Linked DNA regions of Homo sapiens. The protein of the gene in region 1 interacts with the protein of each later gene in a biochemical or structural test. Each region holds a gene or a part of one and is shown on either strand. Other genes may lie near its edges.

What was found. The genes of interacting proteins can lie anywhere in the genome.
Region 2: the proteins of ARID5B (region 1) and PHF2 form a complex in vitro, tested with the Homo sapiens proteins (one study listed by IntAct).

What each region holds. Positions count from the first base shown.
Region 1 is NC_000010.11:62,086,597-62,093,698, reverse strand, and holds part of ARID5B (AT-rich interactive domain-containing protein 5B), read right to left. Parts: intron 2,838-7,102; coding exon 669-2,837; 3' UTR 1-668. UniProt on the Homo sapiens protein: Transcription coactivator that binds to the 5'-AATA[CT]-3' core sequence and plays a key role in adipogenesis and liver development.
Region 2 is NC_000009.12:93,656,584-93,663,583, reverse strand, and holds part of PHF2 (lysine-specific demethylase PHF2), read right to left. Parts: coding exon 6,989-7,000; intron 5,440-6,988; coding exon 5,348-5,439; intron 4,074-5,347; coding exon 3,984-4,073; intron 3,393-3,983; coding exon 3,024-3,392; intron 678-3,023; coding exon 558-677; intron 68-557; coding exon 1-67. UniProt on the Homo sapiens protein: Lysine demethylase that demethylates both histones and non-histone proteins. Enzymatically inactive by itself, and becomes active following phosphorylation by PKA: forms a complex with ARID5B and mediates demethylation of methylated ARID5B.

The DNA of each region.
Region 1 (7,102 bases):
CAAAAGCAATACCATTTAATAAAAAAAAAAAAAAAAAAAAAAAAAAAGACGAGAAGGAACTGGGAGAAAATGGAACTACCTGTATATAAATTAGGTGAGCAAACAGTGATACAGGTAGTTTTAAGAAGCAAATATATACAGTCAATTTAACAGTGTTTACTTCTCTGGATTGTTTAATAGTGTCAAAATGAAAGATCTATTGAAGTTTCACTATACATTGCATTGATTGAACCTTGGAGAGTTTTATGAAAAAGAGGGGCATCCCTTGCCATCTGTTTGCCAGTCTTCCTTGCCCCTTCCTTTGAAATGCCTGCCTCTTTTTTGCCCAGATTGTTTCCTGACCATCCGAACTCAGATGGGGTCCTCTAAGTTCTTCCTGGATATTCACAAATCCCTTCACAAGGCCCACGTGCGAAGTGAATGATCTGGAGGTGCCTGGGCATCTGTGTTGGAAGGGAGTCAAGACTCACCAGCCAGTCAGTTTGTGGGCTAGAGTTGTCCCACAAAAATCAGGCATGTTCACCTCCCCTCTGGGCCCCTACAGCTGGGACTGATCATAGCCTCAGATTAGAAGAAATACTGACTTCTAACTCTATAAGCCAGCACTCCTGGGTAAGGAGTGAAGCTCTGTTGGCCATGCCGCTTTGGACTGCTGGGCAGAGCTGAGCCTACAGTTTTGTACTGGGGTGCACGGATGACAGCTGGGAAGATGGAAAGGCAGCTTGAGGATTTATAGCAGCTAAAGGGTAAATGCTGTTATGCAAAAGGTCCCCATATGAACTTCCTACAGGTGTAGCCGCAGCCAAGTGTCTGTACAGCTGCTGAGAATTTGTCGGTGATGTAAAAATTCCTCTTTGCATCACAAGCGAGTGGAAAGCCAGGGGCTGCATGAGTGGAGAAAGCACAGTCTGGTTTTTCAAGTACTGCAGAGAATGAGAATACCCAGCCGGGAGCCTGGAGTTGAGGCCCGAGTTACACAGGCTCCCGGAATACAGACCTGGGAAGATAGGGGAGGAGAGGGGAAGCTTGTGGCCTTCTGATCCGCCCCCGGAATGCCCACCGTGCGCTGCTTTGCTGCCTTCACTCTCCTGCTCAGAGGCCTTCTCCTTCCCAGAGACCTCCTTGGATGGGTCTAAGGGAGACACTGCCCGGGCCTTTTTCCCTGCAATCACAAGGTCCAAATCCTCCAGGCTGCGCTTGATCGGCCGCGCCGCCCCAATGTTCTGCGGGCTCATTTTCCGGTGCAGGATTGGGTGGACCATGCCTTCCATCTTCCTGAAATTCTCCAGTCTCACATGGTGAGGTTTTCCTGATCTTGAAAGCGATTCAGGGTATTTTTTAGGGCCTGACATGGTCATGGGTGATACCCGACAGGCTTTGGGGTGACAGTCTCGACTCTGGCTGCCTAAGACCTGGAACTGGGAGATGCCTTTGCTCTCCTGGGGCCCTGTGGTGGAATGAGCCAGGCCCAGGACCTTGCCGGTAGGTTTGTGCGGGTTCTTGGGAAGGCTCAGATCTGTAGGCTGATCATCCGTAGGGGCTTCTGCTGCCGCCGACTTTTTGTCTTGCAGGTGCAGGGACGTGAGATAATTTACATGGAGCTTTTCTTGGTGTCTGTGGGAAGGAAAAGAACTGTTTTCCGATTCCCTGTACATGTCCCTGGAAGGGTATTTGGATGTCTGTTCATTATGAAGATGGTGCTCGGTGTGTCTGTAGAGGCTATGGAGATGAGGGGACGAGTAGAAGTCAGCCAGGAAGCTAGGCATGTGGGAATGGGGGAGGGCCCTTTTCTCTAAGAGTTTATCCTTGCCCTCCTGAATTTCTTGCTTCAGGACGTAGGAGTCAGCAAGGGGGTTAAGGTGATGCTTGGAGAAGCTGCAGCGGTGGGGATCTGATCGACTCAGTTTCTCATGCTTAAAGATGTCATTGATGGTCTTTCTCTCTTCCGAGGGCTTGCTTCTGAAACTCTGGACGTGCTGAATCACTGATGGCCGGCTGACCGCCATATGGTCAGTGCTTTGGCCATGGTGGGTCTGGGACAAACTGGAACACAAGTCATCCCTAGCAATCAGTTTCTTTTTGCTGATCAAAGGGGGTGGGGAGCCATAAGGGTAGCTGCTGGAGAGGCTGGCCCCACTCACTTGGGACAAAAGCTTTTTCTTGGCCAGTGGGGACATGATGCCTGGGTTGCCCCTAGAGTAGAGCAGGGGCGTGTAATTAAGTCCATGGTTCTCGTTCATGGGCCCAGTCAGGTCTTTGTCTTTGAACATGTCAAACGACTGGACCACAAGGACCTTTGGGGTCTGCTTGAGCGCATTGTGGATGTCGTCACTGCCCAGCTGGTCCACCTTCACGGTGCAGTTGGCAATGTAATCTGCCATGGCGGGCAGTTTGTCATCCTCCGTCTCATTCTGGTTTGCCAGCGGTGGCTGTGTGGTGGGGAAGCTGGGGAAGGATGCTTCTTGGGGTTCACTTTCAGGGCTCTCTGTAAAACAGCACAGTTTGGATTCTTGTTTTGAGTCCACCAGGGCACTAGGAGAGGTGAGTGGCTGTTTGCTGGCCCCAGGGACCAAGGCTGAATCTTTTTCTGGGGCCAGAGGAGCACTTGGGAGTGGAGGTGTGGGCCCCTTCTCTCCCGCCTCCTCTGCCACCTTCTCACTGTTGGAACCTTGGTCTGTTTCGTTGTCCTTCTCTGGGTCTACTCTGGATGCCAGGGGCTTCGCTGAAAATTCCTGATACCCTTCTATTTTTTTCTTCATGTCTGCTGCTGGGAGAGGCTCAGGGATGCTTTTCTGGCTTATTAAAGTCTCTTGTTCTTTTTCTTGCTCTGATGAAACCTGGTAACATATTTCAAAAGACAGTCAGAAGAAAACCAAATACACAGACATGTTTTGCTATGAAATAAAATATTCCACACAGCAGTTTTACTTGAAAACAGGCTTGTCAATCAGCTCGTGAAGTTTCTGTAAAGCTTTATTACTCCCCAATCATGGCTCTAAACAAAGAAATCTAAATTACAGAAACATTAGGGGAAATATGCATATTCGCTTCAGTCCCTTATGAGATACCTATCAAAATAGCAAAGTATTATGTACTGATGGTATACAATCATATCACTCCTTGATTCTAATATATAGTTTAATTCTAAGGTTGTCTTCTTGTCAAATCAGTCAATTATCCAAATGGGTTTTAAATTACATGTTGTGTTTTATGATACTCCTGAGAAAGATTTTTTTAAAGCATTTCTCTTTCAAAAATCCAACCAACCCCATGTTAACGACAAACAACAAACCTATTGCAACTCCCTGCTTTCCTTAACAGGGCAAATCCCTTCCCAATGTATTCAATATGATGCACTGAAGATTAGCAATGCATAAGTGTTAATAATTTCTACTCAGGGCCAGATGATATGCAGATAATGCTAAAATATTGACAAAGTATGAAGATTTCTTGGCAGCCTGTCTACCAGAGGGACAGAGGAGACTAAGTCCTTCTAGGTTGCAGCAAACTACATTTCTATTAAAGCCCAAAATGAAGTTGTCAAAATTCAGACAGTCAGTGCCACCGCAAATATAGCTTTGCTGTTGAATGAAATAAATTATAGTCAATGAGACAGACACACTCCTTATGTGACCCTACTGACAGAAGTTGTGGGTACCAATTCGACTCATTTACTGCATTATGCAGCCATATAAACTTTGACCTTAGGAGGTCATTTTAACTTTCCATCTATGACCCAGCTGACTGACAAGCCCTTTCAAAACTGCTGTCATTCTGCCCTGACATGTCTTAGCAGAGCAGTCACAAAACAGTTGTACTGAGCTGGTATTCTTCCCCTCCTTTTTCCATCTCATCCCTTGAACTTTGTTCTTCTCTGTTAAGAAAAGATGTGCCTGTAATCTCAGCACTTAGGGAGGCCGAGGCAGGCAGATCACCTGAGGTCAGGAGTTCAAGACCAGCCTGGTCAACATGGCAAAACCTCATCTCTAGTAAAAAAACAAAAATTAGCCAGGTGTGGTGGTGGGTGCCTGTAATCCCAGCTACTCAGGAGGCTGAGGCAGGAGAATCGCTTGAACCCCAGAGGTGGAGGATGCGGTGAGCCGAGATCATGCCATTGCACTATAGCTTGGGCAACAAGAGTGTAACTTTCACAAAAAAAAAAAAAAAAAAGAAAAAGAAGGAAGGAGGGAGGGAAGGAAGGAAGGAAGAAAGGAAGGAAGGAAGGCAGGCAGGCAGGAAGGAAGGAAGGGTGGGTCTGCCAATTAGCATCTTTGGGTAAGATTGAGGATGCTGGTTTAGGAATACGTGGGAACAAAAGTTTTAAGAAATCACACCTATTTCACAGGTATTTTTCCTTAAATCCCTTTAAAAAAAAAACCCTGAATTTTAGGGACATGTTATACCTAAGAGACTTTGCTTATCATCATTATTTCTTTTTATTTTTTGTACTAGTAGCTGCCTTTTCCAGTACAAATATCATTACTTCTTCTACATTAATAATCATCACATTGGTCTCTTGAGCTTATACATGACACAAAAATAAAGACAAATGAGTATGGCAAGGGAAAAAGGCAAATTGCATCTAATTGTTAGTTTCTTATGGGGCTATAGTTTGACGCAGGGCAATGAGGGATACTCAGTCTCATTGAAGTTTCTATGATGTAGAACTGCAGTTATATCAGAGTCCCATGCTTCGGGTTGTAAAACAGGTTTAGGAAGTCTTTGAAAGCTAGGCAGAAAAAAGTAAAGGACTTTTTTTCTAGTAAGACATTTTATGATCTGCTTAGTATGTTAAATGTTAGCTTCCCACCATGCAACTTGCAATCCCATTACTTGAATATAGTGGATTCAACTAGAGGGAATTTCTCACCCTTTGTATCTCCATTGAGTTCACCGCTTCATATTGAAAACACCAAAAACTAAAAGCGATGAAAACAATAAAATCCAAACCAAAAACCCCAAATAGAGTTAATGAGAAAAAATACACCTGGCTAATAACATGGTTCTATGTTGGAGGTGAGAAGTGATTCGTATTATAAGGTCAACCTTGGAGAGGGTGGAAGATTCCATGAGGTTTAGATAACCTCATCATGACAACTTTCAAAACCTGAGACACTTACAGCTCCCTGAAGGGAACAGTTGCAGCCTACAGGAAACACAAAGCCTAACAGCTTTCAGGGTTTCTATGGACTCCAGGGAGTAAGGCTCCACTCTTGGGCATGGTCATCATCCAAGCTGACAGGCTCAGTGCATAGGCTAAAGATTCCTCCTACCATTCACAAACCAACCATTTCAAACTTAATCCCCAAATTGGAGATATTCAACGGTCAGCTGTCCCCTTGGTCCTCAGTTTGTCCCCTGGTGTTTTGTGTACATATGGCAGCTAATAGAACACACTCATCTGAAACCCTATAATAAATCACCAGGCCAAAAGTATCAAGGAAAAATGGAATGTAAGCATGCACTTGGAATTTCCTTGCTTTTGGCCATTTATGTTGCAAGCTTGCAGATGTTGAGAAATCTGCATCATCTGGCCAGGGACGGTGGCTCACACCTGTAATCTCAGCACGTTGGGAGGCCAAGGCAGGAGGATCATTTGAGGTCAGGAGTTCAAGACCAGCCTGACCAACATGGTGAAACCCTGTCTCTACTAAAGATACAAAAATATTAACCGGGTGTGGTGGTGCATGCCTGTAGTCCTAGCTACTCGGGAGGCTGAGGCAGGAGAATTGCTTGAACCTGGGAGGCGGAGGTTGCAATGAACCGAGATTGCACCACTGCACTCTAGCCTGGGAGACAGAGAGAGACTCTGTCTCAAAAAAAAAAAAAATCTGCATCATCTTCTTCCTCCTCCCCCTTTTTAGTTACTAGAGCTTAAAATAATTATGAAACCTAATAAAAACAAAAAACCCACAAATTTCTAATCTTGGTATCAATACTATTTTCTTATGTAAGAGTCAGCTGGGTAAGTTGATGTCTAGATGGGAGGTTGGTGCGTGTTGTACATGTGCAATTTAAACCAGTGTTTAATTATGGAGCCTCTTATGTGTTCATTATAAACCTGATTTTTTAGGGGGTATTTAATATCAGCATCAAAATTCCCTCTGGGGTTGAATCCTAGAACATGCTGTCTCCAAATGTGGCTGCTCAGTTTTTTTTTTTTTTTAATGGGCAGCAGCGTTTTTTATTATTCATGTTGAAATGGAGCCCAGATCAGCCTACATGACTGGCTACATGCTGGGGGTAATGGCTTCTACCAAAAGGCTGTTGGGGGCTTAAAAAGTGCAGAAACTACCTGTTAATATGAAAAATAATAATGGTTTCATAGGAACCATTTCAAAATTCCCCTATAAATAATATGCACTTAAGATCTTTTTTCCTTTTTTTTTTTTTTTTTTTTGAGATAGAGTCTCTCTCTGTCACCCAGGCTGGAGTGCAGTGGCCTGATCTCGGCTCACTGCAAGCTCCGCCTCCTGGGTTCACGCCATTCTCCTGCCTCAGCCTCCTGAGTAGCTGGGACTACAGGTGCCCACCACCACGCCTGGCTAATTTTTTGTATTTTTAGTAGAGACGGGGTTTTACCGTATTAGCCAGGATGCTCTCGATCTCCTGACCTCGTGATCCACCGCCTCGGCCTCCCAAAATGCTGGGATTACAGGCGTGAGCCACCGCGCCCGGCCACACTTAAGATTTTCTTAAATTGGTCTCAACCCATGGCTGTTGCACAGAAATCAATTATGGGAGACAAACACTTCTCTAAAGTTTTCAGGAGAGTCTTGCAGGATACAGCACCACAGTTCCAAGGTCCCCTTTCCTGGACCTCCAAAGCATTTTTTTTGAGACACGGCTTCACTCTGTCACCCAGGCAGGAGTGCAGTGGTATAATCACAGCTCACTGCAGACTTTACCTCCCAGGGCTCTGGTTATCCTCCCACCTCAGCCTCTTGAGTAGCTGGGACCACAGCGGGGCACCACCATGCCTGATATTTTTTTTTTTTTTTTTTTTTTGAGATGGAGTCTTGCTCTGTCACCCAGGCTGTCGTGATCTCAGCTCACTGCAAGCTCTGCCTCCCAGGTTCATGCCATTCTCCTGCCTTGGCCT
Region 2 (7,000 bases), on another chromosome or scaffold:
CAGCTAGAGGCGACTTCTCTAGCTTCTGCTCCTCTTCCATCTTCAGTAAGGAGTCAGGTTTGCTGTTCTGAAAAGCAAGACCAGGGCCGTCCCTGAGCCCCACACAGAAGTGGGGGGTCAGGACCCCAATTAGTGTCAGTGAGAAGAGGCAGCTACTGGGAACACGACTAAGGAAAGTCACCCATAGCTCTGGTGGCCACCCGGGCCACTGCGGGGTGCTCAGGGGCCTGCACCCCATGGACTCAGTGCCTCGATGTTGCCTGACCCCCATGGAGTGGGAATGAAAACCAGTGTGTGGACCGTGAAGGGAAACACTGTCAACATACAGGGTGTACATTCAACCTCTTGCATCCCAACCAACTCAGAGGAAGATGTAGTCCATGGGTGGTCACACACACCTCAGACCCACGTAAGCACACCCCACAGCACTACCTACTCAGGACAAGCAGACACATGTCTGCACATTCCTTCACACACACAGGGCCTCACAGATTCACCTCTGCTCACACTCACCAAGCTGACACACACACGTGTGCATGCATATGTGCACTTCTCACCTTGTACTTCCACTTGGCCTCTGACTTGCTCTTGGTTTGCTCTCGAATTTCCAGCCTCTCCACATCATTCTGCATGTGAACCACATCTTTGTTGGGCACACTCAGGACACTCTTTGTGGCCTAGAAAAAAGGGCTGCTGTGACCCAGAGGCAGACATAGAGGGCTGGTGGAACTCTCTTGAGCCACAGATTCCCTGTCTTCTTCTGGCCCATGTGCTTGCAGCTCAAGCCTCCATCCATCTACCCATCCACGCATCCATTCACCCACCCATCGATGTACCCATTCACCCACCCATCCATCCATCCATTTATTCATTCATTCGTTCATCCATCCATCCGTTCATTCATCTGCCAACCCATTCATCCATTCATTCATCCCGTTCATTCATCCACCAATCCATCCATCCACTCACCCATTCGTTCATTCATCCATCCATGCACCATGCATTTGTTCATCCATCCATCCATCCATCCATCCATCCATCCATCCATCCGCCCACCCATCCATCCATTCGTTCATCCCATTCATCCACCCACCCATTCATCCATCCACTCATCCATTTATTTATCCATCTACCCATCCATTTATCCATCCATCCATTTTTTCATCTATCCTTCCATCCATCCATCCACTCATCCATTTATCCATCTCCCCATCCACTCATCCATTCATCCATCCATCCATTTGTTCATTCATTAATTCATCCACCCATCCACTCACTCAATCATCCACCCATTCATCCATCTACCCATCCATTCATTTATCCATCGATCAGTCCATTCACCCACCTATCCACCCATCCATTTGTTCATCTATCCATCCATGTATCTGCTCACCCATTCATTCATCCATCCATCTATTCATTCCTCTGTCTATCCATCCATCCATCCATCCATTCATTCATCCATTTATTCATCCACCCACCCATTTGTTCATCCATCCATTCATCCACCCAACCATCCATCCACTCATCCATCCACTCACCATTTGTTGATTCATTCATCATCTACCCATCCATCCATTCATTTATCCACCCATCCATTTGTTTGTTCATCCACCTTTCCATCCATTCATCTATCCATTTATTCATCCATCCATCCATTTTTTCATTCATCTATCCATCTACCCATCCATTCCATCCATCCATCCATTTGCTCATCCATCCATCCATTTATTCATCAATCCATCCATCCACCCAACCATCCAACCATTCTTTCATCTATCCACCCATGCATCCATTCATCTATCCATCTACCCATCCATCTTATGCACTCATCCATCCATCTACCCACTCATCCATCCATCCCTTCATTATTCCATCCATCCATCCATTCATCCATTCATCTACCCATTCATTCATTATTCCATTCATCTACCCACCCATTCATTTATTCGTCCTTCCATCCATCCATCCACCCATTCACCCATCCATCCATTTATTCATCCATCCATCCACCCATCCATCAATTCGTTCATGTAGCCATCTATTCATTCATCTATTCATCCATTCGTTAATCCATTCAACCATCCATCTATCCAGCCATTCACTGATTCATTCATTCATCCATCCGTCTGTTCATCCATTCATCCATCCATTCATCCACCTATTCATTCATTCACCCATTCATCCAGCCATTTAGCCATCCATTCATTTGCTCATGCATTCATTCATGCTTGCCCTGAGAAAGAGAACACAAAAGCGTCCCACTACACCCCTGTGATGCCGGCCCTGAAGTTTCCTGGCCCCCAGGAAGCAGATAACGACCTCCTCCTGGCAGAAACTCACACTCAATGGTGCTTCAGGGGTTCATGGTCCCTGAAGCCCAGACCTAAGATCCTCTAGTCAGAGTGGGTCTTCAGGGCTGGGCCCATCTCTTCACTGTCCACAGGGGCTCAGACTATCAGGGCCACCCTGCTCTTGTCCTCACCCCTGAACCCCCTCCCCTCCAATGGCATTCTCCCTGTTGTTTCTGCACAGACACCTCATCTACCTTCAGGTTTCAACCTCAATGTCTTGGCCCCAGGGAGGACCCAGGGCTTCTTTGTCCCCTGGCAACTGCTCATCTGGCTAGGAAACCTAAACTAGACATCCCCTTCTGGAAAACCACCATGCCTCCTCCACCAGGTGGCCCTCTTGGGTGCCACCTCTGCCACAGCACACACACATTGTGTTGCCTTCCTCAGTGAGGGACCCTCTTCAGGCCCACTGCTCTGTGGCTTGTTGGGCAAAGCCTGTCCACTCTGGGGGGTCTGGGCCTGGATGCTGCAGGACTGGGTCAGGACCAGGCAAGGAAGTGCATCTTCTGGGCATACAAGCCCACAGCAAGAGCCCAGACCCCCACATCTTCTCAGGGGCCCCTGGGGAACAAGGACAATGGGCCCTAGCTATCTCCATGGGACTGGCCCACAAGAGATGCTGCAGCACCTCTGGTGATAAGGTGGGGAGTCAGGGTGAGGGGGTCCCACCTTGCCCTTCTTGGGCGGCTCCATCTTGGTCAGTGCCTCCTTGGTGTGGGCTTCGAGCAGGTCCAGGTTGGGGATGGTGGGTGAGGCTGACTCCCGGGACTTCTTCCCTTTCTTCTTGCCTCCATCTTTGAGCTTCAGCGTTTTGGGGGGCCTTGGGGGCTTAGGGGGCTTCGGGGGCTTGGGGATTTTGGATGGCTTGGGCATCTTCACAGTTTTGGGAGTCTTTTTTTTGGACACTTTCTCCAGGAGGGATTGAGGCGGGGTGGCCTCAATGGGAGACGGGGGCTCCTCCTTCTCCCGGTCCCCGTCACACACCTCATCTGACGAGGCGACAGTATTCACTTCCGGTCGGACGGCTTTGGAGGCATTCTGGGATACAGAAAGGAGAGGGTCACATGCTGCTTCTGCCAAACTGTGGCCCAAGACGGTCCACACACCAGGATGCTGGAGACACTCAGTGCCAGGCTGGCGGGGAACTATCAGCCCAGAAAGGCTCAGCTACCCCACACCATCATGTGACACACTCACACCCAACCCATGCTATTGTGTGACACACTCACACCTGCGACATGCCATGAGTCACTTGCTCTCCCCAAGGCTCTTCTGTCCTACCCCAGCACAGCGGCTGAGGGCTCATCCAGGAACACACAAGCTGGGACTGCAGGGGCTGAGTCAGGGGCTCCTCCCACAGAGTGCCCTCCCCATGGGAGTTTCAGAGAGGCTGGTGCCATTTCTCAGTCCCTACACACTCACACCAGGACACAGACCCAGCCAGAGACCTAGGACCCTGAGCCCTCACAAAGGCAAGCTTGCCCAGGAAAGTGCAAGGAGGACCATCTGGGGCACTGGCCTTCCCAGACCTGGCAGCTCTGTGTTAGGCTGGCCCCTGGACCCAGAGAAAGACAGGTGGGCCCTCCCCAATCCCCAGGGGTCCAGCCCAGCACCTGGACACGGCCCCACCTCACTGAGCCGGATCTCTTTGGCCAGGTCTTTGATTAGCTGTGAAGGTTTGAAGTGCTCCGGGAGCTCGTCCTCATGCTCTGCCAAAGCCTGCAGGACAACCGGACCCAGGGTCAGCACCAGACACCTCCCGTGGTCCTGACTTACCCCTGCATTCTTGCAGGCTGTCGCCTGACTGCCGAGCCACTCAGATGAGCATGAGGCGAGGGGCTTCCGAGCCAAACTCTGCCCTGGCAAGAGGTCTCTGCTGTGAGCCCCCATCAATAGGTGGACAAACCAAGTACCAGAGAGGACAAGCTTGCCTGAGGCCACCACCAGCAGGCTATGGAATGGACAAGGGTCCCATCCCTTCTTCCTGGTCAGAGGCCACTCCACCCAGCCACATGGCTAAGGTGAGGTGGCAGGGGCGCCCTGGACTGCCCTGGGCCTTGAGGCCTGACGGAGGTGGTGGCTGCAGGATGGCCCTGGGAGTGCACTGGCTGCCTCTCCTGCCTGGCCCACCCATGAGAAAGGCAGGCTACACATGGTATTCCCTGCAGCCTGTATTCCCTGAAGGCTTCCTGTAAATCTCCACTGGCCTTCTCTGGCCTGGGAGAGGGTCCTCCTCCCTCAAGAGTGGGCATAGTACCTCTGCACAATGAGCCCAGTAGGAAACACTGTCCCAGAGGGTGCTCGAGGCTGGGCCAGACCTTCCCCTCCCTTCTGTAGCCAAAACCAAGGGAAGATGCTAAGCAACACAGTAAGTGGCTTCTGTGGGGGCGCGCACAGGATGGTCATCGGTAAGAGTCACAGGGAGGGGCTGCCCGGGTCACAGAGCAAGGTGGCTGGGGTGCTGCACCTGCAATCAGGCAGCTTAGCTTCTGAGCTGATGCCAGGGCCAGCCAGGAGGAGCCGACAGGGTGTCCCCAGCACTCCCTGTCCTGGGGCCAGCCACTCCCCCAGTCCTTCCCTGCCCCCACCAGGTTCCAGGCCTTTCTGTGCTCACACAGTGTCATCCCACCATAGGCCATCTGTCCCCCACCCACAGACCCACCTTCCTCCCAGGACACACCAGCACCTGGTCACCCTCCTCCCACCAACTTGTGACTAAGCTGTGAGCCCCTGATGGAGGGGGCTCTGCATCTACATCTGTCCTCCCCCAGCCCTCAGGTGGCCCAATCAGTGGACAGCAGGGGACGGACCCATGGGGTGTCTGGGGCAAAGGCACACCCCGGGCCAAGCCAGGCAGGGGAGCACCACCGTCCTTCCCAGGCTGGATCTCACTGAAGCAGGACAAGTCCTGGACATTGCTGCTGGGTCTCCAGGGAGGTCCTCCCGCCTGTCACTGCTCTCCTGCCCTAGGGCATTTGTGACATGATTCCTACCTGCTTCTTCGTCCACGATCGGAAAGCACCATTGAGAATTTTAGCTCCTTGGACTAGATGAGGGGGCAGCTGCTTCCCAGATTTGTGAGAGCCTGGGAAGGAGACACTGGGTGAGGTGGGTGGGTGCCTGCTGCCCACAGGTGCCTTCATGCCCAGCCACATAGCCAGACCGGGGGATGCCAGGTCCAGCCTTCCAGAGGTCTCCCTCCGCCCATGGCCACCAGCTCAACTGCCAACAGTTCCTCTTGGAACCTGGGGGCGCCCATCCTCCTGGTGGCCTGCCCTGCTTGAGGAAAGATTGGCCCTCCCACCATCCTCCCACTGTCTCACCCTCCAGGCCCCTAACACAGGCTGCCTTGCTCTCCTCACTCTGCCCAATACCCCAGCCCTACCTGAGCAAGGGGACACAGTCATGCCAGGACCCAGGCCACAGGCTGTCCATGGGCCCACACCAGGCATCCCCAAGCATCTCTTCCCACCTCATGGCGCCCCTTAGCACAGTGTAGGGACCAACTACATTTCAGCTGGGAGGTGTGCTCCTGCTGTGGGCCTCCCCTCCCTCTTCCCATTGAAGAGGGCTCCAGGGCTCCAGGGCTCTGACGCACCAGGACCATGGCAGCTCCCTGGGTCCTCTCAGTCCTGGGGGCCAACTGAACTGTCGTCCACTCAGAGAGGGAGGGTCAGGCAGAGAGGATATGGCCACAGTGGCCTGGCTGGCCAGTAGTCAGGCTGGCCCTGTGGGGTGGCTTCCCAGGTGCTGCCCTGATCCCTGCCTCCCTGGCACCAGTCCCCTGAGGGCAGGGTTAGACTCCCATCTTGGGCACTTCCTTCTGCCAGAGTCAAGCTCAGGGCTCCAGATTTGGGGAACAGTGGGAAAATCTTACCGCAACCTGGCCAGCCGTGACTAAGGACCATTTTACCTTCTCAAACTAGGGCCAGAGTACAAAGGGTCTGCATAAAAGAGCTCTTGGCTGCTATTAGAACCAAAAAAGAGCAACTAAGAGCAACCACACCGAGAAAGGAAATCACGCATAAATGCAAACTCTCCTGCAGGCTCCCTCACGCTGCTGGGCAGTCTGGAGGCCTGGACAGGGTGGTGGCTGGCAGGAGCCACCTGCTCTCATCTCTGAGGGTGTGGCCAGGCAGGACCTGGGACAGAAAAGGGCGGCCCGGGGATGCCAAAGTGCATCCACAGAGGGCCACCGAGCCACAAGCCTGCCTCACGGTCCAGTTGCCAGGCCCCTGAGGGAGCCTAAGGGGACCCAGAGCCCACTCGCACCCACTCCTCAGCTGGTGACAGAGCCAGGGCTCCACCCTCCCAATGGAGGCAAGTGTGGAGGGTGGAGCAGGTGTGATTGATACCTGCACTGAGGCCATGCACACTCACCCCTCTCAACCCACAGCCCAGTGTTCGTTCTAAAACAAGGGACAGTCCAATCGGAAGGAGAGGCCCAGCCTGTTCAATCTAGTCCTGCATTATACAGATGGGGAAACTGAGCCCCAGGGGTCTGAGTCCCAAGAGGACTTGCTCAGGCCACAGGAAGGCGGCACTCACACCCAGACAGTCAGCCCTGACCAGGTCTGGCTGCCCCCACAGCCAAGAGCCCCAGGCTTGGACGCCCACCCCGGAGTGACCAGTACCTTTGAATGCCT